7 linked regions of the Homo sapiens genome follow. The protein of the gene in region 1 interacts with the protein of each later gene in a biochemical or structural test. Each region holds a gene or a part of one and is shown in the gene's direction. Other genes may lie near its edges. The genes, in order: SIRT1, EPAS1, HIPK2, SATB1, NR1H4, CHFR and KAT8.

The links.
Region 2: of the proteins of SIRT1 (region 1) and EPAS1, one has a biochemical effect on the other in vitro, tested with the Homo sapiens proteins (one study listed by BioGRID).
Region 3: the proteins of SIRT1 (region 1) and HIPK2 form a complex in vitro, tested with the Homo sapiens proteins (one study listed by BioGRID).
Region 4: of the proteins of SIRT1 (region 1) and SATB1, one has a biochemical effect on the other in vitro, tested with the Homo sapiens proteins (one study listed by BioGRID).
Region 5: the proteins of SIRT1 (region 1) and NR1H4 form a complex in vitro, tested with the Homo sapiens proteins (one study listed by BioGRID).
Region 6: the proteins of SIRT1 (region 1) and CHFR form a complex in vitro, tested with the Homo sapiens proteins (one study listed by BioGRID).
Region 7: the proteins of SIRT1 (region 1) and KAT8 form a complex in vitro, tested with the Homo sapiens proteins (one study listed by BioGRID).

Annotation. Positions count from the first base shown.
Region 1 is NC_000010.11:67,915,656-67,918,890, forward strand, and holds the end of SIRT1 (NAD-dependent protein deacetylase sirtuin-1), read left to right. Parts: intron 1-609; coding exon 610-938; 3' UTR 939-2,735; downstream 2,736-3,235. UniProt on the Homo sapiens protein: NAD-dependent protein deacetylase that links transcriptional regulation directly to intracellular energetics and participates in the coordination of several separated cellular functions such as cell cycle, response to DNA damage, metabolism, apoptosis and autophagy.
Region 2 is NC_000002.12:46,380,822-46,385,229, forward strand, and holds part of EPAS1 (endothelial PAS domain-containing protein 1), read left to right. Parts: intron 1-774; coding exon 775-901; intron 902-1,153; coding exon 1,154-1,268; intron 1,269-1,603; coding exon 1,604-1,777; intron 1,778-3,687; coding exon 3,688-3,839; 3' UTR 3,840-4,408.
Region 3 is NC_000007.14:139,711,605-139,716,012, reverse strand, and holds part of HIPK2 (homeodomain-interacting protein kinase 2), read left to right. Parts: coding exon 1-81; intron 82-4,408.
Region 4 is NC_000003.12:18,393,811-18,398,218, reverse strand, and holds part of SATB1 (DNA-binding protein SATB1), read left to right. Parts: intron 1-928; coding exon 929-1,040; intron 1,041-3,302; coding exon 3,303-3,757; intron 3,758-4,408. UniProt on the Homo sapiens protein: Crucial silencing factor contributing to the initiation of X inactivation mediated by Xist RNA that occurs during embryogenesis and in lymphoma.
Region 5 is NC_000012.12:100,472,145-100,477,259, forward strand, and holds the start of NR1H4 (bile acid receptor), read left to right. Parts: upstream 1-1,721; 5' UTR 1,722-1,915; intron 1,916-5,115. UniProt on the Homo sapiens protein: Ligand-activated transcription factor. Receptor for bile acids (BAs) such as chenodeoxycholic acid (CDCA), lithocholic acid, deoxycholic acid (DCA) and allocholic acid (ACA).
Region 6 is NC_000012.12:132,877,065-132,881,472, reverse strand, and holds part of CHFR (E3 ubiquitin-protein ligase CHFR), read left to right. Parts: intron 1-3,818; coding exon 3,819-3,918; intron 3,919-4,408. UniProt on the Homo sapiens protein: E3 ubiquitin-protein ligase that functions in the antephase checkpoint by actively delaying passage into mitosis in response to microtubule poisons.
Region 7 is NC_000016.10:31,123,611-31,128,018, forward strand, and holds part of KAT8 (histone acetyltransferase KAT8), read left to right. Parts: intron 1-3,424; coding exon 3,425-3,478; intron 3,479-3,578; coding exon 3,579-3,743; intron 3,744-4,408.

The DNA of each region.
Region 1 (3,235 bases):
ATATTTTAGGTTTATAATCAGAAAAAAGTTAAAATAGTTAATGAAGATGCTTTAAAAGCCTGTGTACTTTAGAGAAGCTACTTAACACAAATTGGGTATCTAATGTAGGCTGGGCTGGATACTTCATTTTCATCAAATCTTTTTAAAATAATTGGTGAAATAACCTTTATTGAATATGGTTTTCTACATTTTTCACACTTCCCTCCTTCATAGGGTTGTGAAAATTTATTTCATATTCTAGATGAGGAAATTGAGGCACAGAGGTACACTTACAAAGATACAATAAATGGCAGAACTAAGATTTGAACCCAGGACTAAGTGTATTGCTTGTATTTATTTAATTAATTAATTTTTAAGAGACAGGGCCTCACTCTGTTGCCTAGGCTGGCCCTTGAACTCCTGGGCTCAAGCAGTCCACCTGCCTCAGCCTCCTGAGTAGCTGGGACTGCAGGCACACCATGCCTCCCAGTTGTTTTTAAACACTAATAGTAGTCTTTCATAAGGACACTTATAATAAAGGCAGAGCTGGAACCCACACTTCATTCCAGACTGCTCAGACTGAGTTAGTGTTAGAAAACTGAAAGTAACATTTTTATTACTGTATTTCAGGTAATCAGTATCTGTTTTTGCCACCAAATCGTTACATTTTCCATGGCGCTGAGGTATATTCAGACTCTGAAGATGACGTCTTATCCTCTAGTTCTTGTGGCAGTAACAGTGATAGTGGGACATGCCAGAGTCCAAGTTTAGAAGAACCCATGGAGGATGAAAGTGAAATTGAAGAATTCTACAATGGCTTAGAAGATGAGCCTGATGTTCCAGAGAGAGCTGGAGGAGCTGGATTTGGGACTGATGGAGATGATCAAGAGGCAATTAATGAAGCTATATCTGTGAAACAGGAAGTAACAGACATGAACTATCCATCAAACAAATCATAGTGTAATAATTGTGCAGGTACAGGAATTGTTCCACCAGCATTAGGAACTTTAGCATGTCAAAATGAATGTTTACTTGTGAACTCGATAGAGCAAGGAAACCAGAAAGGTGTAATATTTATAGGTTGGTAAAATAGATTGTTTTTCATGGATAATTTTTAACTTCATTATTTCTGTACTTGTACAAACTCAACACTAACTTTTTTTTTTTTAAAAAAAAAAAGGTACTAAGTATCTTCAATCAGCTGTTGGTCAAGACTAACTTTCTTTTAAAGGTTCATTTGTATGATAAATTCATATGTGTATATATAATTTTTTTTGTTTTGTCTAGTGAGTTTCAACATTTTTAAAGTTTTCAAAAAGCCATCGGAATGTTAAATTAATGTAAAGGGAACAGCTAATCTAGACCAAAGAATGGTATTTTCACTTTTCTTTGTAACATTGAATGGTTTGAAGTACTCAAAATCTGTTACGCTAAACTTTTGATTCTTTAACACAATTATTTTTAAACACTGGCATTTTCCAAAACTGTGGCAGCTAACTTTTTAAAATCTCAAATGACATGCAGTGTGAGTAGAAGGAAGTCAACAATATGTGGGGAGAGCACTCGGTTGTCTTTACTTTTAAAAGTAATACTTGGTGCTAAGAATTTCAGGATTATTGTATTTACGTTCAAATGAAGATGGCTTTTGTACTTCCTGTGGACATGTAGCAATGTCTATATTGGCTCATAAAACTAACCTGAAAAACAAATAAATGCTTTGGAAATGTTTCAGTTGCTTTAGAAACATTAGTGCCTGCCTGGATCCCCTTAGTTTTGAAATATTTGCCATTGTTGTTTAAATACCTATCACTGTGGTAGAGCTTGCATTGATCTTTTCCACAAGTATTAAACTGCCAAAATGTGAATATGCAAAGCCTTTCTGAATCTATAATAATGGTACTTCTACTGGGGAGAGTGTAATATTTTGGACTGCTGTTTTCCATTAATGAGGAGAGCAACAGGCCCCTGATTATACAGTTCCAAAGTAATAAGATGTTAATTGTAATTCAGCCAGAAAGTACATGTCTCCCATTGGGAGGATTTGGTGTTAAATACCAAACTGCTAGCCCTAGTATTATGGAGATGAACATGATGATGTAACTTGTAATAGCAGAATAGTTAATGAATGAAACTAGTTCTTATAATTTATCTTTATTTAAAAGCTTAGCCTGCCTTAAAACTAGAGATCAACTTTCTCAGCTGCAAAAGCTTCTAGTCTTTCAAGAAGTTCATACTTTATGAAATTGCACAGTAAGCATTTATTTTTCAGACCATTTTTGAACATCACTCCTAAATTAATAAAGTATTCCTCTGTTGCTTTAGTATTTATTACAATAAAAAGGGTTTGAAATATAGCTGTTCTTTATGCATAAAACACCCAGCTAGGACCATTACTGCCAGAGAAAAAAATCGTATTGAATGGCCATTTCCCTACTTATAAGATGTCTCAATCTGAATTTATTTGGCTACACTAAAGAATGCAGTATATTTAGTTTTCCATTTGCATGATGTTTGTGTGCTATAGATGATATTTTAAATTGAAAAGTTTGTTTTAAATTATTTTTACAGTGAAGACTGTTTTCAGCTCTTTTTATATTGTACATAGTCTTTTATGTAATTTACTGGCATATGTTTTGTAGACTGTTTAATGACTGGATATCTTCCTTCAACTTTTGAAATACAAAACCAGTGTTTTTTACTTGTACACTGTTTTAAAGTCTATTAAAATTGTCATTTGACTTTTTTCTGTTAACTTACATTGTTTAAGGTATATAATTTTTAAGTCTTACAGAATTTGTACAGCTTCGAATGCTATAGTATTAGATGCTTTCTTTCTCATACTACATTTCTTCATTTGGTTTATTACATTAGTCTCACCAGACCAGTACTTGCAAAACCCTGATGGTGCTGATCGTAGCAGGTGATGCATCACCACCAAGCATTTCAAAAACTATTTCAGCCATTCTAGGCTAGAGGCCTGAGCAAGTAAAACATGGAGAAAAGGCAGGGCAGGGCCTAAGAAGGATGTGACATGTCCTATGATAAAGGACCAGGAGTTTGGGATTTGAGAGAGAACAGGAAGTGGTGGATAGTGAAAATCCATCTGATGCAAAGGCTGGGTTAACTGAAAATCTGTTCTGGGATGCTAGGTCTTTCAAGTCTGAAGACTGCAGACCACATTTGGTATCAACTTTCTGAGGCTGACCTGAGAACCTACTTAAGCCATTAAAGGTTTTGAGGGCGAAAGTATTACTGA
Region 2 (4,408 bases), on another chromosome or scaffold:
CTGATACCCCATTTAGCCCTTCTCTGAGCTCAGACTTTGGGGAATCACCTCAAGCCATGTGAGGCCTAGTGTAGGATGGGTTTTTATCTGGGCTGCCACTGAGGGCAGGCAAAGAAGTGGCTTGTTGAGAGCCCTGTACCTCAGTGTCTCCCTTCGGACCACCACCAGAGTGCCTTTCGTATCTCGGTTCATCATCTGAGCCACACAGAAAATTGAGTGATGATTTTCCCTGGTTGAAAACAGCAAAAAGATACCCCTGCCTCCCCTTGCCTTTTGGCTGCCCCCGGGTCCTCGCCACTGCAGCCTCTCCCAGCTGTGCCTAGGCTCCAGAAATGCCTTCCCATCTCCCCAGCATGCTCATTTCACCAGCTGCGAGCTCACTGGGCTAAGGCACAGGGGTTGGTACATGACCTGCCACTCCCAGGGGCCGCTGGTACTTGCCCTTTATAGAGCAGCCAAACTAGTTTTCAGTGGGAGCAAAAGGCAGAGGAGAGACATGGGCAGAAGAAACCCTCCTAAGGACTAACATTGCCCAGCCAGGCAGCCATCCCCCAGACCAGGAGGCTTGAGCCCTTCAGCATCTTATAGCTGAGGAAGGAGACAGAGCTCGAGCTCGGCCTGCAGGTGCACAGCCTGCCTCTGAGACTCTGCCTTTTGGGTCTTTGAGTCATCACAGGCATCAGCATTGGGACTGGAAGGGCCCCTAAGATGAGAAGGCACTGAGTGGCATGTGGCTCCAGACTCCCTCATAGCCTGCTCTCTCGGGCTTGGCAGGTCTGCAAAGGGTTTTGGGGCTCGAGGCCCAGACGTGCTGAGTCCGGCCATGGTAGCCCTCTCCAACAAGCTGAAGCTGAAGCGACAGCTGGAGTATGAAGAGCAAGCCTTCCAGGACCTGAGCGGGGTGAGTCATCCCCACTGGCCACAGGGGCCTCTCCATAGCCCTTAGGGAACCCAGGGCTGCTGAGAGGGGTGGGGATGTGGCCCTTCCAAGCCAGCATAGCCCTTAGGGAACCCAGGGCTGCTGAGAGGGGTGGGGATGTGGCCCTTCCAAGCCAGCAAGTGCCAGCCCTGTTCCAGGCCCACCCAACCCACCCAGTCTGGGGACCTGGTTCTCTGGCCATTTCCCCTTTCCATCTGCCCTTCTTACTCCCAGGGGGACCCACCTGGTGGCAGCACCTCACATTTGATGTGGAAACGGATGAAGAACCTCAGGGGTGGGAGCTGCCCTTTGATGCCGGACAAGCCACTGAGCGCAAATGTACCCAATGGTGAGCAGCGGCCACAGGCCTGGGCCTCCTGGGGGTTCTGGTGGAAGGACTGGGGCTCGGGAGCCCATCCTGGTTCTTCCATTCACCACAGGCCGTACCTGCCTCTCTGAGCCTTGTTAGAATGGGGCGATGTCCTCTGTCTCTCCCGCAGTCCCACACACCCAACTTTTCCATCTCCACTCTGACTTAGATGATGCCATCAGAGGGTCCTGAAGGTTGGCTGTAGTTCTGGTGACTCTGAGCACCTTTTATAAAGGAAAGGGATGCTAGGGCTTCCTGGCCTCTCCCCTCCCTCAGGCCAATGCTACCGTCACTCTCTGACTTTGGTCTTTCAGATAAGTTCACCCAAAACCCCATGAGGGGCCTGGGCCATCCCCTGAGACATCTGCCGCTGCCACAGCCTCCATCTGCCATCAGTCCCGGGGAGAACAGCAAGAGCAGGTTCCCCCCACAGTGCTACGCCACCCAGTACCAGGACTACAGCCTGTCGTCAGCCCACAAGGTGTCAGGTGGGTGTGCCCAGGATCTGTCACCCCCATCCCAGGATTCGATGCCAGGGGAAGCCCACGTCTACTTTTTTTCCAGCGTCTGCACAGTGCCAGGCACAGGGAGGTGCTTGACTTGAAGTCACCTATACAGGGCTCAGGTCTCCTTGGATTTAGGGAACCTCCTCACAAGTTCCTTGTGACATCAGTGATCAGGCCCCCCAGTGGGTGGGTCTGAGACACAGCTAAAAAACTCAAACTCAGGCTAGAATACTGAAGGAAAGAATGCAGACCACTACCGACTGCCCAAAGAGGACTGAACACTGAACACTGGGTTGGCGACCCCCAGAACACTGTACCACTGTTGACAGGAGCACTTTCAGAAGAAAGAGCAGGCGGCCACAGTGGTGAGGGCCTGTTGAAGAAGAGAAGAGAAAGTTCAGAGAGAGAGAGTTGGGAAGCGGTCTGGGCAGAGGCAGGGGATCTCCCGTCTATGCAAGGATGAGCTTGCTGCGTGGAGAAGGGAGTGCTCCTTCCCTGGGGCTTTAGGGAGAACCCTCCCATGATCAGGTGCCATCCAGGGCTCTTTCCACCCTGAGAATCCCGGAGCCTTGCCCCTTCCTCAGTTCTTCATGTGGATGTGTTTTGGGGTGTCACTCTGAGTTCAGGCAGGTGCTGAGAACATGCCAAAACTTCCTTCAGGTAGAACAGCCTGGAAAGCTCTGGTAGGCCCACCCCACTGGACTTGGTTCAACTGCAGGCACCAATGCCTGCCTTCAACCCTGGGCCACCTTCATCTTGACAGTATCTTGTGAAACATATATGTCTTCATGAGGTTTGTTTGGCCTGAAAATAATTCGTGGTTTATGGAAAAACATACCAGGCCCCTGTTCTAAAAGGCAATTTCCTCAGCAATAGAGTTTGGGGAAGGTTATAGTTCTGTGCTTCAGAGTCCAGGCTGTAGAAACACCAGACAGCCCTGGCTTAAATTCTGGCTCTGCTGTTGAGTTCAGGGGCTGGTATATATTTATGTGCAGTAAGAGGTAGCCAGCACTATTCTTCCTGTTATGTGAAGCCCACGAATTACCTTGAATATTGAAATCAAGGGAAAATCATATTCTTTTCAAAAGAGTTGAATCATATCAAACTCTTTTCTGACCATGAATAAGAGAAGTTAGCAAGGGATGGTGAGCAGGTATCCATTGATACTGTCCACAGGAGCAGTCAAGCTGGGGAGGCAGGCATGGACCCCAGCAAGGATCTGAGCTAGGAGGTGCAGGAGGCAATGGCCACTGGAACGAGGCTCTGCAGATAAGGGAAGGTGGGTGGGCATCTCCCATCGGAGGGGCAGAATGCAGGGCTTCCAGGCTCTCTGCTGCCACCTAAGCCTTTCCTCCTTGGGATGGGGGCCTGTGTGTGTGCTGCGAGTGTCCCCCCTGCCACTCCCTGGTCTGCCTCCTCGGCAAGAGAATAGCACAGAGGCAAGAAGAAAGGACTGCTGAGGGTGGTGACCAGAAACTGGATTTTCAGACTGTTGAATCTTGAGGCAGTCTGTGTTTGCATCTGTATGTATGTGTGTGTTCTGCATGTTCTGTGTATGTGAGCATAGGTGCCAGGTGGTTCAGCCTTTCCTCCCTGCTGCCAGGAGGCATGGGGGTCAGCAACCCCAGGCTCTTCCTGAAGCTTCCACATACCTGTGCTGCAGCCCGCACCTCACGCTTTCCTCTTTCTTGGGTCTCAGCACCCCACCTGAGGCAGTGGTTCTGGAGGCAGACACGTTCCCCGGGCATGCAGCAGGCCGTGGGACAGACACCACTGAAGGAGCAGAGTGAAATTAGGGCTGCTCTATTGGTATCCCCCAGTCACAAAGAAGTAGACACTTTTCCAAATGTTCGATTTAGGCCTTTAAGTTATGGTACCAACCCTTCTTTCAGGCATGGCAAGCCGGCTGCTCGGGCCCTCATTTGAGTCCTACCTGCTGCCCGAACTGACCAGATATGACTGTGAGGTGAACGTGCCCGTGCTGGGAAGCTCCACGCTCCTGCAAGGAGGGGACCTCCTCAGAGCCCTGGACCAGGCCACCTGAGCCAGGCCTTCTACCTGGGCAGCACCTCTGCCGACGCCGTCCCACCAGCTTCACTCTCTCCGTCTGTTTTTGCAACTAGGTATTTCTAACGCCAGCACACTATTTACAAGATGGACTTACCTGGCAGACTTGCCCAGGTCACCAAGCAGTGGCCTTTTTCTGAGATGCTCACTTTATTATCCCTATTTTTAAAGTACACAATTGTTTTACCTGTTCTGAAATGTTCTTAAATTTTGTAGGATTTTTTTCCTCCCCACCTTCAATGACTTCTAATTTATATTATCCATAGGTTTCTCTCCCTCCTTCTCCTTCTCACACACAACTGTCCATACTAACAAGTTTGGTGCATGTCTGTTCTTCTGTAGGGAGAAGCTTTAGCTTCATTTTACTAAAAAGATTCCTCGTTATTGTTGTTGCCAAAGAGAAACAAAAATGATTTTGCTTTCCAAGCTTGGTTTGTGGCGTCTCCCTCGCAGAGCCCTTCTCGTTTCTTTTTTAAACTAATCACCATATTGTAAATTTCAGGGTTTTTTTTTTTTTGTTTAAGCTGACTCTTTGCTCTAATTTTG
Region 3 (4,408 bases), on another chromosome or scaffold:
AGTCAAGGTCATCGACTTTGGTTCAGCCAGCCACGTCTCCAAGGCTGTGTGCTCCACCTACTTGCAGTCCAGATATTACAGGTAAGACCGTCCACAAGGAGACAGGAGCTGCTGAATGCCCAGTGGCACTCACAGAGAATGTGCCACCTTAGTCACTGTGGGGAGATAAAATTATATGTCTACAGTTCCTGCCTTCAAGTGATCTTAATGTACTTACGAAATTAGGACATGTGCACATTGCGATGTCAATTAGAAGTCACATTAGAACGGAGCCAGGTAAGATCCGTGGCACAGGTGTTCAGCGTTGGAAGGGCTCCCTGGGACCTGGGGTGCAGAGCAGAAGAGTTCCGTCCTCCCGGATGGGTAGGATCCAGACAGGTGGTGGAGAGAGAGGGATGTGCCATCCACAGTCCGCAGTCACACTAGTGGGAATTTACAGGAGACAAGAAGGACACCCGCCTGGCCAGAACAGTTTGTGAGTGGTGGGAGATGTGAGTGAAAGCCTGGTTGGAACCAGGTCACTGGGGGTCTTAAATATCAGATCAAGGAATTGCAACTGTATCCTCAAACCCAGAGCAAGCCCTGGAAACCTTGAACAACATAAGGTAACGGGTTGAAAGGGATGTTCCGAGAAGGTTCCTTGTCTATCCACGTGCAGAAGGGCTGGAGGAAGGGAGAGACTAGTCTGGGGCCAGCTGGGTGGCTCCTGTGGTAAGGTGACTTCAGGCTTTGGGTCAGGATGAGGGAGGAATGATAGTGTCCGTGGCAGGGAAGTGTGTTCAGTCATGGACTCACACATGCAGTCATTCAACAAGCTTTGATTTCACTTTTAATATGTGCCAGCCGCAGTGCTAGGTATAGGGATATAGACAGGGCCCTTGCCATCCTGGGGTATCTGGAAGCTTTTCAGGGACCCCTGTATGCAGTCAGGATTGGAACCGCTGCCGACATGGAGCTGAGATCGGAGTGCTGGCTTTGGAGTCAGGAAAGGCCAGAGTGAACCTGGTCCCTCCTCTCCTAATGGCCTGATTTCTCCATGCCTTCATTTCCTAACCCATGAAGTGGGAGAAATCCTCTCACCAGCCTCGTGGGCAGCTGGGAGGTAACATGGCTGTAACATGGCTTAGGTGTGTCACTCCGTGGCTGGCCATGGCGGGTGCACAGCGGGGAGGCGGCAGGGATGGAAAGCAAGACCCTGCTCTGTGGAACCAGCCTGGGGGTGTGTTTGGGGTGGTGCCGAACAGTGCAGTGGAGATAGAGGTCACAAGAAACAAAACTGAAACTCCCATGAGAAGATGGGACGGATGCACATTTAAGAGCGTGCCACGTAGGCAGGAAGACCGGGGTCCCCGGAGGCCATCCTGCTTGCAAGCAAGCACGCTCGCTTGCCCGTGTGCTTTCTCCATGCGCCTTTCAAGGCCACAGAGAGAAGGCTGGAACATGCCCCAGGGCCTTGTCGACACAGCTGACCTGTCACCCATTCCTGGGGCTGACCTGGGCCAGCTTCCCCTTCTTGCTCCCTGTCCGGGCCCCCATCCTGGCTGCAGGCAGAGCTGTTGCAAGTCTCCTCCCAGCCCCTCCCTCAGCCTGCTGGGCACCAGGCCCTCCTTCCCTGGGAGAGCAACAGCCCCTCCGTTCGGATCCCCAGATGCCCTCCCACCTTCCACCCCGTCTCCTTTCATCCTAATCCTGACTCACACAGGAGGTTTCGAGGCCTCTTCACCCATGCTGTTTCTGTCTCTTCCCTCTTCCCTTTAGGAGGCATTTCCTGAGTTAGAACAGCTCTCTGCGAGCCTCTTCTCTGCCCTGCCCTGAGGATTCCTTTCCCGCTCATTTCCTATGCGCAGAAAGGTCTCCACAGGCCTGTGCTTTCACCACCAGGCCCCGTGCGGACAGACGGGTCTACTGCTGCCCCTCCACTTGCTCTCCACTCCCTCGTCCTGACCAGGCCATCCACTCTGTGCCCCGCTGGCCCCAGAGCCAATGGCAGGGAGAAGTAAGCCCAGGGCAGGAGCCTCCAAGGAAGACAAGAAGCCTCTCCTTGTCTCCAGAGGAGAAGGATGGGCAATGGTTGAGTGAATCTGGAGGGTTGGGTGCCCGGTACCGACAGCACATATTCTCTGTAGAGAGTGCCTGGGCCTCTGAAAGCCAGCTCTGGTGGCCGTCCCGGGTACCAGCCCCATTGGGGGCTAGCTGGTGCTGTGCTGGCTCTGGGAGGCTGCTGTGCCACTTCGTATTTAGGTTGGTAAATTCAGCATGCCAAAGGCTGGCTCTTTCTAGTTCTTGGCCTGAATTCAGGGTGAACAGCCCCTGACTTGGCTGCTAGGGCTTTTATGTAGTTCATCTGAATTGCTGCATCATGAACACGTACCAGTGTTATTAACATTCACTGAAAGCTAGCATGGCGACTTGTAAAAAGACTTCGACAAACTCTGTTTAAAAGGCAGCACATCCTTAGAGCGAAACTTGGTGAATCGAGTAAGCTGAATTGGGGATTCTTAAGACCCCCTTGTCATCTTGCCTTCTGGTGCCCATGTGACGCTTCCTGGAGCCCTCCCTGCCCATCCCCTTGGACTCTGCGAGTTTTTCTTTGCTTTCCTGCCTGGTGCTGGTGCCCCTAGTGCTGAGGAGACAGGTCGCAAAATCGGGGATCCTAGCTCAGGAAGCCTGCGGCAGCAGTAAAAGTTTGCCTGTGAGGGTTGGGGAGGGCTGACTCCTTCACCTGGACTCACAGCGATCCTCTCCTGCCCCCCTCTGTGGGTGAGATCAGGCCTTTTGGACGCCTCTGGTGGGTGTGGTAGGCTGGTTTGCTGGCGGTTCCTGGGCCCTCAGGAGCCCTCTTTTCCCCACTTCGTGACAGGCACAGTCACATCTGGCCCCTGTGTCCCCACATCCCTCTGAAGGACCCTCCGTTTAGTTGTGATAGTACCCTCTTTTCACCCCTGAAATCACCATTGCCTAAAATTCTGAGCAAGAAGGCCTCTTTCTCCTTTCTGTGGTCACCTTCAGGCCCTCATGTCAGCCTCCCTGTGCCCAGCCCTGGTTCCAAAAATACGGTCAGCAGGAAAGACAGCGGCTCTTCTGCCTGAAATGAGGCTTCATTTCTAAGTTGGTGCAATGTTCTGTTTCTCCCTCAGGCCTTGTCTGAGCCCTGCAGTGGTTTGCCACCATATAGATCGATCCGATTTTTCGAGGACAGTCTCTAGTGCTCTGTCTCTTTTCGTCCCAGCTGTGTGGGACAGCCAGCTCTAGGCCATGTTTATCAAGTTGATTTTCCTGGTGGCTTTGCCTCTTATAGGAAAGAAAGGGGGCAAGAAAAGCTCTTTAATTGTCCATCGTTAAGGCCCATGTCCCAGAAAGAAGACGCTTTCAGATGCTTTCAGCTGCATCTGCATCGTGAGGGAATGGCTGTGTGTTTGAGCCGCCTGGGCTGGAGGAGTCATTGCATGCTGTGCATCCAGCCTCCCAGCAGGTTGGCCTTTGTCCTGCAGGTGGTGGGTGGGGACTTTCTCCCCTCGGCCCCCTGTATCTGAGCTGGGCACATTATCGTCCCAGGACATCTGACTTTCAAAAGGTAGAGTACTTATGTGTCCCTCTGTCATTTTGCATGGGACTGGGCTAAGTGTCTCATCCCACCATTGTCCCCACCTAGTGACACAGAAACGGTGTGAGACAAGGATATGTTATCCTCGCCTTGGGGACTTGGAAAAGGAGGTGGTGTCCCCGGAGCCAACTGTTTTCCCCAGCTCTCAGGCATGTGCCTGGCCACAGTGGCTGTTGGTATTCTGTGAGGCAAGCCCACTGGTGTGTTTTTCAGGAAACAAAGGCTGCTTTTTAAGTTTTTTTCTCGAGTCTGAAGCAGGGGTATTCCCTTCCAATTCGAAGGTCAGTTATGTCATTAACTGTCAGCTGCCCAGGTTCTCAGGCTTTACTGTGCACAGGAATCTCCTGGAGAGGTTGCTGGGAACAGAGTCTCCCTGGGAGTACCCTGGGAGAAAGTCCACACCCACCACCACAGAGACTTGCCTCAGAGAACTGGAGGTGAGCCAGGCAGGGGGTCTTAGGACCAGTCTTTGAGAAACACTATTCTGAAGGACAGAGGGATTTTCTTAATGGTGTCACCTTTCAGGTGTTGACACCCAAAAGAACAGAGTTGCAGGTAATCCTTGCTTGTATTACTTCACCTTGGGCGCCCCTGCCCTTTTGTTATTTAATTCTACATTGATGCCAGTTCATTTTGTTTGTTTTTAGTTTTTTTGTTTTTTTTTTGAGCAAGCAATAAATTGGTACTGGGGTATTTCCATTATCAGCAGAACCAGTAAACTACAAATAAGACCAAATGTTAAACTCCACTCTCAGAAAAAAACACAAACAAAAAGACATGCCATTCAGGCAAAGGGTAATCAGT
Region 4 (4,408 bases), on another chromosome or scaffold:
TAAAAAAAGAAACCCTCCTAGTGATTCATTAAAATCATGTTTTTCTTCATTTTTGTATGTTAAAGGGCTGACAGTTTTCCGGGCATTTATTAAAAGCAGGATAAAGATAAGTCACGATAGGTCATCTTTTTGTGGTATCCTTGAGAAATTTAGAAGCATGAAATGTATAAATTTAAAATTTTTATGATCGGTTTGAAATTCAAAACTTAAGCTTTACTATTGATGAAGCCAGTAATAAGATTGCAGAATGTTTTTCTCTTGATAGAGGATCTCTGTGAATAGTTTGTTTCTTCTCAAATACGGTCAGTTAACCTTTGATCAGTGTTAATGCGCGTCCACTTTAAATCCAAATAATAGAGTGGAAAGTGCAAGTTCTGTTTCTCAAATTTTAATATACATGTGAATCCCCTGGGATCTTGGTAAAATTCAGCTGCTAAGTGCACTGGTCTGGGGTAGGGCCCAAGATTCTGCATTTCTAACAAGCTTCCAAGTGATGCCCATATTGCTGGTCCCTGGTCTATACTTTGAGTAGAAAAGATGTAGAGTCCAGTCAAAAAATCGCGAAGTCTCGTATATTTATGAGTCACAATTATAAAGTCATCTTCATGTATTTGGATTTATTGGGACCAGTGAGTTTGACAGCCTAGTAATAGATGGCATTGATGGAGATTCAATGAATGCTAGAGCAAAGTCTGTGGGTTTGATAGCTTTATACTGGTCTCAGTGGGCTGTTGCTTTCTACTTAAATAAGCATTTGATGATCTACTTAATGAATATTAAGAAGTCGAAGCTTTAGGCTAAAGTGTGAAACCAAAATGTATTGGTACTCAGTTGATTAAAAAAATACAGTTGCCACAATTGAGATCATTTCTGTGTTCCATCTTGTGCTGCTGTGTATTACAAATATTCTCCCCCCTTCTTCATGCAGAGTATGATTTCTTCCATTGTGAACAGTACTTACTATGCAAATGTCTCAGCAGCAAAATGTCAAGAATTTGGAAGGTGGTACAAACATTTCAAGAAGACAAAAGATATGATGGGTAAGCAAAAAAAACATTGCAGCAGTGGCTACATACCATTACGTGTCATTTGGGGGTTTATCAAAGTCACATCTAAAGCCAGGTCTTTTGATTGCCCAATTAGAGATCAATTTAGAATGTTTCTTTGGGGGTGGGAAGTGGGTATGAGTATAATGAGATAATTAAATTCAATAAATGTTTGTGTTTAAATCAGCCAAACTGACTTGGTTGTCAGACATGCAGGAAATTGAGGCGTTGGGAGGGGAGCTGTCATTTTTTAACAACTCAGTGAAGACCTAACCAGGCCTTGAATAACTAATATTAGCTGTGATTTCTTTCTCTGATAAGTCTTGCTTTTAGGTTTTTTGTTTTTGTCTGGTTGAATGAGAAAGTGCCTATTTTTACACCCAATTTTAAAGGAAATTAAACTTCTTAAATTAAACTATTTATAGTTTCCACAGTAGAGATCAAGTGATTTTTATAGCTCTAACCCCCAGCCGCCATGGATGGGCACTTTGATAAGCACATTGCTTTACCATCCATACCAGAACAATTATTGCATCATTTCTGAACTTTTAATTCCAAGGTAGCATTCTATCTTAACACATAACTTTAGGTGAATATTTGTTATGCAAGAAGTACACTAAAATTATCTGCAGTGTAAAATGATAGATAAAAGTTGTGTATGGTACCTAAGCATTTAGATGATGGCATTTTCTCTCTGTTGAGTTTGTTAATGTTCACAAAAGCAAACACTGTGATTAAGGTTAATGTTTTAATTTTTATTACTGTTCTCTTTCACCTACTTTTACCCTCCAAAACATATATTTTAAAATAATATAGGAATGGGCATTATGTCCTGTTTTAAATCTATTTCTATTTATTTCTTTACATTCATTTAATTTTTTTTTAATTTTTTAAGAAAAATTAATCCAAATTTTGAGCAAGTTTTAGCTCTTAATATTTGAAGAAAAACCATCCATCTACCAAAATGGATTCTTTGCCTTTTATAGCTTAAGGCTGTAATGAAGACAATGCATCATTTTTGGAATAATTGCTTGAATTACTGTTCTCTGTGAATGGCCCACTTGGGCTGATATCACTGGTAGAAATTGAAGATTTCTTCCCCAATTCTTAGTTATATTTTGCGTATATCAGGAGCTATAGCGCTATGATAAAGTTCCTCTAAATGTAAAACCTGCATATTTAATGAAAAGAGAATTGATGATTAAAATCAAACTAGAGTCTACATGTGGGAAGTCTGTGTACAATTTGGAAAGTCCTGTTTATGTACAGCTTCATGCTCAGCCCTTCCAGCCAAGAGCATCGAACCAGTCTCCTCTTCGTACAGAAAAGCATTTACATACTTAGAGATGATGCTCAGCCAATCCATATGAGGAACCTAGCCAAGGAAGAAGCATTCATCCTGGGTAGGTGGGAATAAATTGCAAAATCATGACAGCCTCACCATTGTACCAGAACGATTCCCTGCAAGATTGTCTTTAGCATCTGGTGATGGCCATAGCTTCCTGAAGAAAAAACATTTGGATCTTAGCAACACTGGGTATGCTGGCTTGATATACAATAAATCACTTGCTTTATTCTAAAAAGTATTTCCAGATATACCTACTGCCCATGATGGTTAGAATTAAAATGAAGCAAGGCATATAAGATATTCAGCAAGTGTTCAATATACACTTATTATTATGCCCATTTTTATTTATTACATTAACTACTTCTATTCACTGCTGGGTAAAAATTGAAAGTAGGTGACTTTTTATGTCATATTTTTTCTTTTACACCTTTTTCCTAGAGTACTAAAGTTAATGAATATCATGAGAATATATTTGTAAATTTTTTTAGTTGCTTATTATAAGCTTATTTTCTCAGCTCAGCTCACTGTTTGTAGTTGTCATTAAGCAAATGACATTCTTTTAGAAGCCATTTTTAAAAATTGTTGCTTAGAAGCCTTCTTGGGGTAATAAGTGAGAGTGAACAACTAGTTGGAAAGAGTTTGGGTAATAATTGATTTTATGCCTTAAATCTAAACCACTTTTTAAAAATAAGATTAGGAATGCTGTCCCATTTCCAAAGTTTGTAGAATTGTTCAGGAAAGGAGAGCAAAAACACAGCCTGGTAAGTTGCAACTTGAAATTTTCTTGGTTTTATTGGATTTGGGGTGTGCCCTGTGCCTACCCTTTTTTAATTTAGGAAATGGTTAGAAATCTTTATCAATGCCAATCATTGTTGGCTGAATGTGATTTTACTCTTTGTCCACTTTAGTTGAAATGGATAGTCTTTCTGAGCTATCCCAGCAAGGCGCCAATCATGTCAATTTTGGCCAGCAACCAGTTCCAGGGAACACAGCCGAGCAGCCTCCATCCCCTGCGCAGCTCTCCCATGGCAGCCAGCCCTCTGTCCGGACACCTCTTCCAAACCTGCACCCTGGGCTCGTATCAACACCTATCAGTCCTCAATTGGTCAACCAGCAGCTGGTGATGGCTCAGCTGCTGAACCAGCAGTATGCAGTGAATAGACTTTTAGCCCAGCAGTCCTTAAACCAACAATACTTGAACCACCCTCCCCCTGTCAGTAGATCTATGAATAAGCCTTTGGAGCAACAGGTTTCGACCAACACAGAGGTGTCTTCCGAAATCTACCAGTGGGTACGCGATGAACTGAAACGAGCAGGAATCTCCCAGGCGGTATTTGCACGTGTGGCTTTTAACAGAACTCAGGTCAGTTGTGTTTCATAAGTGGTTCTGTGCTGTCTCCTATTTTCTCTTTCTTTAGTCCCATCTATAACTAAAGTTTATTCTTTTACTTCTGTACTAACATTTTCTCTCTCTCTTCATGTGATCATATTACCTATTCCTGGTGGAGCCTCAATTTTACCACTCCTTTTCCTATGATATACTTCTGAATCAAGGGAACCTATGTGCAGATTGATCCCAATTCAGGGCCTTTGAAAGACTAATTAAATGTCAAACGTACTTTAAACTGGCATTACTTATGCTTTTATATAATGGAATCATAAGCTATAGTAGATGGTTAAGAAAAGTTTCATGACTCAGTCAAGGCTATTGGCAGGATTCCAGGCTTCTAGCCTATTGTCTTTTCCATTTATGTTGTTACTACCCATATCAAACTTAGGTATATAAATGTTCCCTCTTAAAGTTCTACTGCAGCGTTGTTGTTGTTGTTGTTGTTTGTTGTTGTTAACACCTTGGAAGCAATAATCCACTTAATTCTAAGCAGCCATTTTGAAAAAATATTATATGACTTATTAACATAAAATATTTGTAAGCTGTGTGCGCTCCCTCATGCTATTGTCTTCCAAATTCATTGTCTAGACCAGGCATCAGCAAACTTTATTCTGTTATCGACCA
Region 5 (5,115 bases), on another chromosome or scaffold:
TCAGGCAGCCCAGAGCTGCAGAGTGCAGTAAGTGTCAGTGCAAACTCTCTTCAAAAGAAAATGTACAGGCCTGGGGTGACCCTCTTCCTTGTGCCGAAGGGGCTGGAGGATGCACCATAGTACATTGGGAACCCCCAGAAGTAGGTAGGAAGTAGGAGCCTGTAGGACCTACAAAAATGCTATTTTATAAGAGAAGCAAAATATAACATTTCTAACAGGTTTGAATGTAGATCTTCTACTAGCTGACCTTGTGACGGGAAACAAATGACACACATCACAGATGGGAAATGCACACATCACATACACACACACACACACACACACACACAGGTGCATGTGCAGCCATGCTGCTTTGGGAAGTTGTTTCTCAGCTCACTCATTGATTGCGTTAACAAAGAGTTACACAATGCTTTTTCTGTGAGAGGCACTGTGCTAAGACAAAGGGTAGATACAAAGACAAGTCTGCTACCATGCCTGGTTTTTGTAAAAGAGATAAAACAAGTAGAAAACTATAATATATAAGGTCAGAGGATTTAAGGGACAGCAAGGAAACTACAAATAAAAGATCAAGGGAGTTGGGTGGGGAGAATAGGGGCAGATGAGGAATGGGGCTGGCTTCAGGGAGAACTCTGCTTCTGTTCCACGCCTGGAAGATGTGTGGGTGTGAAAAGAAAGTAACTGAGGTAGAAGGAAGAGCTTGTGCAAAAGTGTGGAGGCGGGAGAGCTTGGTACAGGTTGGCAGAGGTTGGGATGTCTGAAGGGACAGAATGTGAGAAAATCCTAGAGACATTAGGGCTAGATCTTCAGGTGTGGAAGGGGTTCTAAATGTCAAGCATTTTGTGTTCGTTTTTTAGGCATAGAGAGTGCATTGGGGATTTTCGATGAGGGGAGTGCCTAGCAAGTTGCTGGGTACATAGTAGGCTGATAATCAATCAATGATGGTTCAACTAATGAAGGAGAGAAATAATAATTGCCACAAATTATTGGGTGATTGCTATCTGCCACACACTTTTCTAAACATTTTCACTACTCATGTAATTCTCACCACAGCCCATGAGATGGTTTCTCCATATCCATTCTACAGATGAGGAAACTGAGACTCAGAGAGGCTAAGTGTCTTGCTCAAGGCTGTGACTAAAGAGTGGGCATCTAACCAGAGCCTGTGCTTCCACACTGCTGTGCAATTTGGAAAACAGAAGAAGGGGAGAGAAGAAAAAGGGGTTGTGGGACCAATGTCATCCAGAAAGGAAGCTATGATAGGCCCAAAGTAGGAGAAGAACAATGTGGGTTGGAAATAAGAGACATTCCAAAGATGCAATCAACCCAAATCTGTTATTATTTGATATGGGTGGCTGGGCAGAGGGAAGGGTCAAAAAGGCTCCCAGCTTCTAGTTCAGTCCCGGGGAAGTGATAGAGCTATTCAAAGAAGTTGTAGTGAGAGAGAGGGAAGATGACAGTTTGGTTTTAGTTGATGTGTACAGAAATACGGGTGCCCAGGAGCCCACAAAACGGCCAGAGGAGAAATGCTTTCAAAGGCAAGCTGCAGGGCTCCTTGGTTTTGTCACATTCCTCATTCTGGGGCTTTGCGGTTTTGTCTTGGGAATCTCGAGGCTCTCCCAAGGTTCCTTTCTATGTTTATATCATTTAGCAGGGAAGGATTGTTAATGACTAATCTGTGTCCATGAGGCACAGAGCCAAGGAAGAGATGCTGCTGCTAGCCCAGAAGGCCGCCTGTGATCATGCACAGTACACTGGAACTCTCTCCTCCTCCTCACCTCATTGTCTCCCCGACTTATCCTAATGCGAAATTGGATTCTGAGCATTTGTAGCAAAATCGCTGGGATCTGGAGAGGAAGACTCAGTCCAGAATCCTCCCAGGGCCTTGAAAGTCCATCTCTGACCCAAAACAATCCAAGTAAGTACCTAATTCCTTTGGGAGTGGGTTGTGTATCTCACAGCAACAGAGAAAAAATAGTCACTTAAAAGTTTCTCTTTGACATCTGTAATGTATGTCAATAAATGAATTCTAAGTTAGTAGAGTTTGATGTAAAGTCCTGAAAATTAAAAAAGAGAGAAACTAAAAAACAAAAAGAAGCAGAAGCAAAAGTTAATGAGTCTTAACAGTTGCTTACCTATTGAAAACTTATTTAGAAATACTCTTTTAACATTGTGGTCACCTGAGTAAATCACTGGAGATAGTGCATTTCAGAAATGTCTCCGTTCTGATTCCATAAACAATTTGACTTGTATAGTGTGCTATATTTTGGTGATTTATCAAATCTTGATGTGAGTTTGGGAGTATTGCTAATGTCAGATGACTTGGGAACTAAGAATAAGACATTTAACCTATGCTTAATTGAAATGAAATTTTTCCCTAGAAGAAGAGTAGGTGGAAAAAGTCTTCTTTCTTGACTTCAGTTGTAAACTCTTCTATTGCTTTCCATTTTGAATATTAATATGACAGGAAATATCAGATGGAAATATTTTTAAAAGATAGAAATGTGAGTATGACGAAGAACTTTAGTAATAAAATTGTCCAAGGACTAAATTTATAGATAAGATACCTCTTTGTCTCCTTATTGACAGAGTGAATGGGGCAACTGTGGAGCCTGACTTACTTCTTTTAATTGGGTTTTTATTCAGAAGGGAGGGGCAGGAGGGAATGACAAGTGACTCACCTTGAATTCTTCCTCTAAGAAACTCACACCTGAGCTTTGAGCTATAAAGAAATCTGATGCTGTTTCTGGTGCTGTCTTAGAATCACTTCAGGAGTATTGACAAGAGGGGTAGGAACCCTTAGAAATAATATTAGTGATAAATAAGAAGGCAGGAAGAAACTTTTGGAGGTGATGGATAGGTTTATGGTATAGATTGTGGTGATGATTTAATGAGTGTATGCCTATCCCCAGACTCATCAAAGTGTATACATGGAATATGTAAAGCTTTTATATGTCAGTCACACCTCAGTAAAGTGGTTTACCTATCTATCTATCTATCTATCTATCTATCTATCTAAATTTTTTTTTCTGTTCCTAAAAAAAGGAAGGGAGAAGAGAGGAAAAGATGTTCAGGGAGCTACCATTTTGTTTCTAGCTGTGATTTTATAAAATGATAGACACTTTTATCTTTGTGTTACGTTCCTACCCCCAGTCCTCCAAATTATGGATCTGTGCCATTTGTACCGTGGACTTTTCTGTTTTCTGAGGATGTTGCAACAAATACTGATGCAACTCCTGGTTAACTGATAAAGTACTGGCCAGGGACAAAGCTCTCTTGTCCTGAGACCCTTCCTCAAGATTTGCAGCAATTTCCCACCACGTACCTCTGCCCTCTCCTCACAGCTGGAGAGGGAAAGTCATGGAATCCTTGTCCTTCCTCTTGTTTCCACCTCTTCAAGATTGGGCCAATTGCAATGGAATATCCATTGGTTGTGAGGCCTTTGTACTCTGCAAGGAAAAGAAAAGAAATGTGTGTATGTATGAGTGTGTGATGGAGCTAACTTTTCTACAATGTCTACTAACATGTCCTAGCCTTTACTTCATTCGCCTGTTTCCTTCTCACAAAAACCCTGTATGGGAGTTTTTCTTTACTTTTTATTATTATTTTTTTGAGACAAAGTCTCGCTCTGTCTCCCAGGCTGGAGTGCAGTGGCGCTATATCGGCTCACTGCAGCCTCCACCTCCCGGGTTCAAGCGATTCTCCTGCCTCAGCCTCCTGAGTAGCTGGTACTACAGGCGTGCACCACCATGCCACTATTTTTTGTATTTTTAGTAGAGACGGGGTTTCACTATGTTGGCCAGACTGGTCTCGAACTCTTGACCTCAGGTGATCCGCCCGCCTCGGCTTCCCAGAGTGCTAGGATTACAGGCGTGAGCCACTGCGCCCAGCCAGGAGTTTTTCTTATACTCATTTTACAGATGAGAAAACTGAGACTCAAAAAATACAAGTGACCCGTCCACAGGCAGATAGTTAGGAAGTAGCGGGACCTGAACTTGAGGGCGGGTCTTTCTGACTCCAAAGCCTCTTCCTGGCTACTCTGATATTGGCTATTGGCGGAGGCTGGGAAAACTTGAAATGGGGAATGATCGGGGAGCGGCGAGGGGGGACCAGCCGTTAAGCATTCCAGCCTGACAGGGGTGATTTGTTAAACCCAGGAACTAGTTAGACGTTTCCTGAAACCTCCTGCATAGGGCATTTTCGAGAGATTGCACCATCAGTAGGGAAACTGGAAAGTTTGGAGCACTATTTGTTTTAACCCAGAGACCAGTCTAAGATAGCTGGGTGAATATTTCCGTTATCAGCGTTTTAATTAAAGACCACAATGAACTCTCCATGCTGCTGTGATTAGGGACATCTTAGAGAGGAGCTCAGAACTGCTGTGGCTCACAGTCTCTGGATTATGAATGCCATGAGAATGCATATCATGATGTGATAGATTTTCAAAGGCTCACATTGTCATTAGGTGGGTGCATAAAGGACAGAAAAGGTTCTTTACTTCATAGAAAGAGATTTCCCTTCCCTTTGCTCTCAGTCTCATTTTTATCTTAGTCTCTAGCAACACAGATTATAAAGGGGAATAAAAGAAAATAGGAACAAGCTAGATACAGTGATGAGTGCCTGTGATCCCAGCAGCTCGGGCGGCTGAGGTGGAAGGATTGCTTGAGCTCAGGAGTTCAAGGCTGCAGTGAGCTATGATAATGCCACTATACTCTAGCCTGGGTAACATAGAGAGACACCACCTCAAAATTTTTTTTAAAAAATAAGAAATAGGAACAATTTTCCTCCCAGGTATTTTTTTATTGTCACAGTAGTTTCTACCAGTGAAGATGTAGCTAAAAGGCATCACCATACGAGTGTCCTTAGTCACCAAGCTGTATGAGGAGGCAAAAATCATTATTACATACAAATATTCATCCTTCTGTCTTTTCTCTCCCTTCTCTCACCCTGCTCTGGAATCCCCTAACCCCTTTGCTCTTCACAGTGAATTATTTTCTCCCTCAGTTTGCCCATTTCCAATTTTGGCCATAAAAGAACATCTACTATTCCTACTCTCTCTGCTTTGTAAATTGGTGATAAGATGACACTAATATAATGCAACTTGATTGCAAAGTAAAA
Region 6 (4,408 bases), on another chromosome or scaffold:
GCCATCCATATCTCTTCTTTGATAAAGTGTTTAAATTGTTTTAAGTTGCATTATTTACTTTCTATTTATTGAGTTATCAGAGTTCTCTATACATTCTGGATACAAGATCTTTGTCAGATATGTGTTTTACAAATATTTCCACCAGTCCATAGCTTGTCTTTTCATCTTTTTAAACAATATCTTTGAAGAACAGATTTTTACTTTTTTTTTTTTTTGAGATGGAGTCTCGCTCTGTTGCCAGGCTGGAGTGCAGTGGCACGATCTCAGCTCACTGCAACCTCCACCTCCCATGTTCTCCCACCTCAGCCTCTCAAGTAGCTGGGATTACAGGTGCATGCTACCATGCCCGGCTAATTTTTTGTATTTTTAGTCGAGATGGGGTCTCATCCTGTTGGCCAGGCTGGTCTCGAAGTCCTGGTCTGAAGTGATCCGCCCGCCTTGGCCACCCAAAGTGATGGGATTATAGGCGTGAACCACCGCCCCCAGCCTTACTTTTTTTGTTGTTGTTGAGCCAGAGTCTCGCTCTGTCGCCCAGGCTGGAGTGCAGTGGCGTGATCTCGGCTCACTGTAACCTCCGCTTCCTGGGTTCCCACCATTCTCCTGCCTTAGCCTCCCGTGTAGCTGGGATTATAGGCGCCCGCCACCATGCCTGGCTAAGTTTTGTATTTTTAGTAGAGACTGGGTTTCACCATGTTGGTCAGGCTGGTCTTGAACTCCTGACCTTGTGATCCGCCCGCCTCGGCCTCCCAACGTGCTGAGATTACAGGTGTGAGCCACCACGCCTGGCCCAGAATTGACTTTTTTTTTCTTTTTTTGAGTCGGAGTCTTGCTCTGTTGCCCAGGCTGGAGTGCAGTGGCACCATCTTGGCTCACTGCAAGCTCCACCTCCTGGGTTCACGCCATTCTTCTGCCTCAGCCTCCTGAGTAGCTGGGACTACAGGCGCCCGCCATCACGCCCAGCTAATTTTTTGTAGTTTTGGTAGAGACGTGGTTTCACCATGTTAGCCAGGATGGTCTCGATCTCCTGACCTTGTGATCCGCCCCCCCCTTGGCCTCCCAAAGTGCTGGGATTACAGGTGTGAGCCACGGCACCTGGCCCACATTTTACTTTTGACAAACCTCAGCTTATTATTATTATTTTTTCCTGGTTTGTGCTTTTTATATCCTATCTGCGAAGTCCATGCAAGACCCAACGGCACTAAGATTTTTGCCTGTCTTTTCCACTGGAAGTTTCATAGTTTTAGATTTTACATTTGTCTCTGTCTGGCCATCCTTACACAGCCACAATACTGTATTGTTTACTATAGCATGATGGTAAGTCAGTTAAGTAATATGAGTCTTCCAGCTTCATTCTTTTTCAAAATTGCTTTGGTTTTTCTACACGTTTTTTCTGTGAACTTTAGAATCAGCTTGTCAGTGTCTACAAGCCCTCTGGGATTTTGACTGGAATTGCATTGAATGTATGAAACAATCTGGAGGACAGCTGACATTTTAACAATACTGAGTCTTCTGATTCACACACCCATAGGTCAGTGATGGGAGCAAGGCTCAGGCTAAAGCAGATTCAGGGTGTCTTTCTGTGTGGAACGTTTAGGAAAAGTATGTTTGCATGCCACTGTCTCCTGACCAAACCCTTCGCTTTTTTGTCTTCTAGTATCTTTATGTATCCTTATAGATTATTATAGGCAGTAATGATTAATGATGAGATATTAAAACGCCTTTGTTCTTTTGATTTAAGGAGAGGGCAAGTATTGAGGATTTTCCCTCTTGCTTTTGTATTCAGGGCCGGGCGCTGGTGGCTCACGCCTGTAATCCCAGCACTTTGAGAAGCCGAGGCGGGCATATCACGAGGTCAAGAGATCGAGACCATCCTGGCCAACATTGTGAAACCTCATCTCTACTAAAAATACAAAAATTAACTGGCCCTGGTGGTGTGCGCCTGTAATCCCAGCTACTCAGGAGGCTGAGGCAGGAGAATCGCTTGAACCCGGGAGGCAGAGGTTGCAGTGAGCTGAGATCGTGCCACTGCACTCCAGCCTGGGCCACAGAAAGAGACTCCGTCTCAAAAAAAAAAAAAGAAAAAAAAAATCCCAAAGTGTCAGAATTACTGTATTCAGCTATAGATGCATCCCTGTATATAAGATGCAGTTTCTTATACGTGTACAAATGCCTATCGCAGGCCAGGTGCGGTGGCTCAAGCCTGTAATCCCAACACTTTGGGAGGCTGAGGCGGGTGGATCAAGAGGTCAGGAGTTCAAGACCAGCATGGTGAAACCCCGTCTCTACTAAAAATACAAAAAATTAGCTGGGTATGGTGGCGCATGCCTGTAGTCCCAGCTGCTCAGGAGGCTGAGGCAGGAGAATGGCTTGAACCTGGGAGGTGGAGGTTGTGGTGAGCCGAGATGGTGCCACTGCACTCCAGCCTGGGCGACAGTGCGAGACTCCATCTCAAAAAAAAAAAAACAAACAAAAACAAAAAAAAAAACAAATGCCTATCACAGTTGGCTCAGTCACTTTTTCTGTGACTGTCATTGCTTCAATTTTATGTTGATTTATGAAACCTAAGTTTACACAGAAAAGAAATTAAGGACTAAATTAAGATACTGAAGAATTACTTAAGCCCCTGAGTTTTTTTTTTTCTTTTTTTTTTTTTGAGACAGAGTCTTGCTCTGTCACCCAGGCTGGAGTGCAGTGGCGCCATATCGGCTCACTGCAAGCTCCTCCTCCCGGGTTCTCGCCATTCTCCTGCCTCATCCTCCTGAGTAGCTGGGATTACAAGGCGCCCGCCACCACGCCCGGCTAATTTTTTGTATTTTTAGTAGAGATGGGGTTTCACTGTGTTAGCCAGGATGGTCTCGATCTCCTGACCTTGTGATCTGCCCGCCTCGGTGTGAGCCACCGGACCTAGCCAACCCCCTGAGTTTTTTTAAAGTTCTAATAATACTCATCAGGTTAGCTGTGTATGCAAGCATATTGTAAAATTGCTTTTTTTTTTTTTTATTTCCAGTTGGAGTCTAGCTCTGTCGCCAAGGCTGGAGTGCAGTGGCGCGATCTCAGCTCACTGCAACCTCTGCCTCCTGGGTTCATGCGATTCTCCTGCCTCAGCCTCCCAAGTAGCTGGGATTATAGGCAACCGCCACCATGCCCAGCTAATTTTTGTATTTTTAGTAGATATGGGGTTTCACTGTGTTGGCCAGGCTGGTCTCGAACTCCTGACCTCGTGATCCATTCACCTCAGCTTCTCAAAGTGCTGGGTTTACAAGTATGAGCCACTGCGCCTGGCTGTAAAATTGCCATTTAAGAGGCTGTGTGTAACTGGAGGTATTGATGGGTGTCTTTGAGAGGGTGGGGATTCAGAAAGGTTCAGGATGGGCCGGGCGCGGTGGCTCACGCCTGTAATCTCAGCACTTTGGGAGGCCAAGGTGGGCAGATCATGAGGTCAAAAGATCGAGACCATCCTGGCTAACATGGTGAAACCCCGTCTCTACTAAAAACACAAAAAATTAGCCAGGCGTGATGGCGGGCGCCTGCAGTCCCAGCTACTCTGGAGGCTGAGGCAGGAGAATGGTGTGAACCTGGGAGGCGGAGCTTGCAGTGAGCCGAGATGGTGCCACTGCACTCCAGCCTGGGCGACAGAGCGAGACTCCGTCTCAAGAAAAAAAAAAAAATTTCTTTATGTCTTTCTTGGTCAAGTGTTTTTTTTTACATATGTACAATGGGGATCCTGAGTTGGAACCACATACTTTGGTAAACAAAGTGCAGTAGTGTTCACAGTTACCACGATCATATCCCGTGTTGACCCACCCTCTCTTTTTTAGGTTGCGACCTTTCCTTCCCCAGCAATAAACTGGTCTCTGGAGATCACTGTAGAATTGTAGTGGATGAAAAATCAGGTCAGGTGACACTGGAAGATACCAGGTGAGTATGTTCTGAGCTTCTTTTGGTGTTTCTTCTTGTAGCTTAAGAAGCCTGACTTCGTGCTCTGTGCTGTGTGCCACGGCTGAGGAGGAGAAGAAATGCTGTCTTTAGTGTGATAACAGCGGCTCATTTTTATAACAGCACAGTCATGTGTCCCTTAGCAACAGGGATCCAGTCTGAGAAATGTGTCAGACAATTTGATCATCTTGCAAACATCATGGAGTATACTTAAACAAACCTAGATGGTGTAGCCTACTACATACCTAGGCTATATGGTATAGCCGATTGCTCCTAGGCTATCAACCTATACAGCGTGCTACTGTACTGAATGCTATAGGCAGTTGTAACACAATGGTAAGAGTATTTATCTAAACACAGAACAGGTGCAGTAAAAATATGATATTTTAATCTTGTGGGACTCCTATCGTATATGCGTCTGTTGAAAAAAACATTATTATCAGCCCGGGCGCGGTGGCTCACACCTGTAATC
Region 7 (4,408 bases), on another chromosome or scaffold:
ATTTTTGTGCCTCAGCCTCCCAAGTATCTGAGATTACAGGCGTGTGCCACCACACCCAGCTATTTTTTATTTTTTATTTTTAGTAGAGATGGGGTTTCGCCATGTTGGCCAGACTGGTCTGGAACTCCTGGCCTCAAGTGGTCCTCCCACCTCGGCCTCTCAAAGTGCTGGGATTACAGGCGTGAGCCACCACGTTTAGCTGAGTATAATTTTAAATAGCCCTATGTGACAAGTGGCTACTTTATTGGACAGTGTAGATCTAAGATTAATTCCTCAACTGTTTTGCACTCAACAAAGACATACCTCTGAGTTGGCAACCAGCAGGGTGGATAACGGGCCAGTGGTGATAAAATCAAAGAATAGGTAATGAAACAATCATCCAGTTAACAATCAGCAAGGTTCTTCAGAGCCTAATTAATGTTTAATTCTAAATAAATTGCAACAATTAAGAAAAGTAGTGTTTTTGTAGTTCTTTATTGCATTTGCAGAAGAGTACTGTATTTTGTGAGAATTGGGAAATGTGTTTTAAAGAGATGTGTGAGGAGGAAAATCTTTCTTCCTCATCTTTACAGTGGTTAGGTTCAGAATTGGACAGACCAGGGGCCCATGCCCAACTCTGCTGAGTACCAGTTCTGTGACCTTGGGCAAGTGACCTCACCTCTTTGTGCCTCAGTTTTCTCTCATACAACAGGGACAATGAGCACTCTTATTTCAAAGGCTCATTGTGAGGAACAAAATGAAATAATGTCGGCTGGGTGCAGTGGCTCATGCCTGTAATCCCAGCACTCTGGGAAGCTGAGATGATTGGATCATTTGAGGTCAGGAGTTCGAGATCAGCCTGGCCAATATGGTGAAAGCCCGTCTCTACTAAAAATACAAAAAGAGGCCAGGCGCAGGCAGACCACGAGGTCAGGAGTTGGAGGCCAGCATGGCCAACATGGTGAAACCCTGTCTTTACTAAAGATACAAAAAATTAGCTGGGTGTGATGGTGCACACCTGTAATCCCAGCTACTTGGGAGGCTGGGGCAGGAGAATCGCTTGAACCCAGGAGGCGAGGTTGCAGTGACGTGAGATTTTGCCATTGCACTCCAGCCTGGGCGACAGGGCGAGGCTCCATTTCAAAAAAAAAAAAAAAAAAAAGGCTATGGCTCATGCCTGTAATCCCAGCACTTTGAGAGGCCAAGGTGGGTGGATCATCTGAAGGTCAGAAGTTCAAGACCAGCCTGGCCAACATGGTGAAACCCCATCTCTACCAAAAATACAAAAAATTAGCCGGGCTTGCTGGTGGGCGCCTGTAATCCCAGCTGCTTGGGACACTGAGGTGGGAAGATCGCTTGAACTCAGGAGGTGGAGGTTGTAGTGAGCCAAGATTGCACCATTGCTCCAGCCTGGGCAACAAGAGCAAAATTTCATCTCAAAAAACAAAATAAATTAGCTGGGAATGGTAGCAGGCACATGTAGTCTCAGCCACTTGGGAGGCTGACGTAGGAGAATCACTTAAGCCCAGAAGGCAGAGGTTGTGGTGAGCTGAGATCTCCCCACTGCACTCCAGCCTGGGCGACAGAGTGAGAGTCTATCTCAGAAGAAAAAAAAAAAAACATGTCTGTGCCGTGCTTGCCACTTGGAATAAATGGCAGCTCACTAGTCCCCGAGGGTAAGGGACCTCACCTTGCCCTGCCTGTTTACTACTCTGTAAAATTGAAATAACGCAGCTGGGTGCAGTGGCTCACGCCTGTAATCTCAGCACTTTGGGAGTGCGAGGCTGGTTGATCACCTGAGGTCAGGAGTTTGAGAACAGCCTGGCCAACATGGCGAAACTCCATTGCTACTAAACATACAAAAATTACCTGGATGTGGCGGCATGTGCCTGTAGTCCCAGCTACTTGGGAGGCTGAGGCAGGAGAATTGCTTGAACCTGGGAGGCGGAGGTTGCAGTGAGCCGAGATGGTGCCACTGTACTCCAGCCTGAGCAACAGAGTGAGACTCCGTCTCAAAAAAAAAAAAAAAAAAAAAAGAAATAACACTCTATGTAAGGGTTACTGAAAGGATTAAATGAGGCCATATAAACATATAGGCACAGTGCTTTGTGGAGGGGGTTCTGGGTAAAGCACTGGCTCCTTCCTCCCTTCTCAGCTACAGGGCAGGGCCTTGTCTGCCCTGGTGTAGGTCATGGACCGTCTTGGGTCCCCCTTCCATTGTCAGGCTGTACTGGGTTCCTCCCACAGGGTCTGGCCTAGGAGCAGGATGTGTTGTGAGTGTGGTGTGACTCTTAGTCTCTGCTTTCTAAGGACTTGAAAAATAGAGGAACCCAGGTGGGCATACTTGGACAGTGTTGCCCTGTTGACCACTTCTCGCTGAACTTGGGAAGGAGGGAATGTTTTCTGGATGGGAAGAATCCAGTCAGGCCTCCTGGAGGGGGTGGTAAGAATCTCAAGCCTTGAAGGATGGGAAAGAGCACAATAACAACAGTGACAAAGGATAGATCACAAAGCATCATGGACTCACCTGACTCATGCTCCGTGCCAGGCTGAGGAAGTGTTTTCTGCTGGCAGTGAGAGAAGGAAGGGCATTCTCCAGGTAGAAGGAGCTGTTTGTGCAGAAGCATGAAGGCCGCTAAAAGGGGGCTGCTGATAGCAATGAGGAGGCTGGGGCTGGAGGCAGGGAGTCTGAGGCGGCCTAGTAAATTGTCCAGACCTGAGATGGGGCCATGACTACCTGGAGCAGGACAGAGAGGAGAATTCCAGAGAGGGCCCAATTCCAGAGATGTCAGAAGTAGACTCGACATCCACTGTATTAGGACTTGGCCAGGCCGAGGGAGAGAGAGTAGTCTGAGGCAAGCCTAGTTATGGGTCTTGGACACTGGGACCAAGGGTGATGTTCCCAGTAAAATGAGCAACCCAGGAGGAGGCGCAGGTTTGCAGGGAGGAGTGATGAGGTCCTTTCTGCACATCTTGAGTCCGCTGTCCCTGTGGGAGGGACCTCTGGGGCAGTCGCATGGGCAGGCAGGGTCTGGTCCTCAGGAAAGGGGTCCAGGAACATCGGGGAGGTAGTAACAGTTCTTACGCTGGGCCTGGAAGGCAAATCTGTTATTTCATTTGAGTCTCACAACTTTGGCAGAGCTGGATTGCCCCCCATCGTGCAGCTGAAGCCCCATCCTGATCCTAACCCTGTTCATCTGGCAAAAGGTCCAAACTTGGACATCAGGGATGTCTGGGATATCGGGGGTGGGGCGGGTGGGTGTGAGAGGAGTCTGGACCAGCCAGCTTCAGAACCAAGTCAGATAGGTTAGCTATTGGTGTGGTTATTATTGCCATCCAGGAATGAGGTCTGGTAGACGGCAGGGAAGCCTTGTGGGTCCTGACGGGAGGGACAGCCTGGTCACCACTTCTGTTCACCTCTGCCCACTTTTCTTTCCTGGCCCAGACTTATGCAGAGATGGACCCCACCACAGCAGCCTTGGAGAAGGAGCATGAGGCGGTAAGTGGGGCTGGGAAGCTGCCTGCAGGTCCCCCGTCTCCCCTTGCCGAGGAGCCCCTGCTGAGCCGTGCACTGTGCCTCACTCCCACCCTGCCTGCAGATCACCAAGGTGAAGTATGTGGACAAGATCCACATCGGGAACTACGAAATTGATGCCTGGTATTTCTCACCATTCCCCGAAGACTATGGGAAACAGCCCAAGCTCTGGCTCTGCGAGTACTGCCTCAAGTACATGAAATATGAGAAGAGCTACCGCTTCCACTTGGTGAGGCTGGGCCGGCCGGGCCGAGCTGGGCAGGGGCCCGGTGAGAGGCAGAGGCAGGCATGGAGACTGAGGGCGGCTGCGCCGGCAGCTCCAGGGAGGAGACAGGCCCAAAGGAGCGAGTACAGGGAAGAGCTGCTGGGGGTCAGGAGGCCTGGATTCCAGGCCTGGCTTTGCTGTTGCTGGCAGGGTGACCTTGCCAACTTCAGACCTCAGCTCCTCTTCTCTGGAATGGGGACAGTAACTCACCCCCTTCAGGTCTTTTGCCAAGGCCAGCTCCATCCCAGGAAGCACACATAGCCCCTGGCAGTGGGACCTTAAGTGTGGATGAAATTGGGGGCTGTCAGGAAGGGGCGCTCTCATCACTGACACAGTGGGCTGCTTCCCGAAGTGTGGAATCTGAAGCGAATAGGTGTGGTTTAGGGAAGCCATTGTCATGGACGGGTCCCTCCAGAGCCAGGCCCACAGAGACTCAAAACCCCACCGTGCTGTGTGATGTTTGGATCTCTGTGCCTGGGCCTTGGTCTGTAAAAGCAGGATCACTTTCCTAAGGCTGCTGGGAGGATTACTCGATGTAGGTGAAGTGTTGAGGGGGGAAACAGAGAGGCAGAGACTTGCTCCAAAGCATGCAGTGGTGGGTTGGGTGCCTCCTAGCAGAGAACATATGG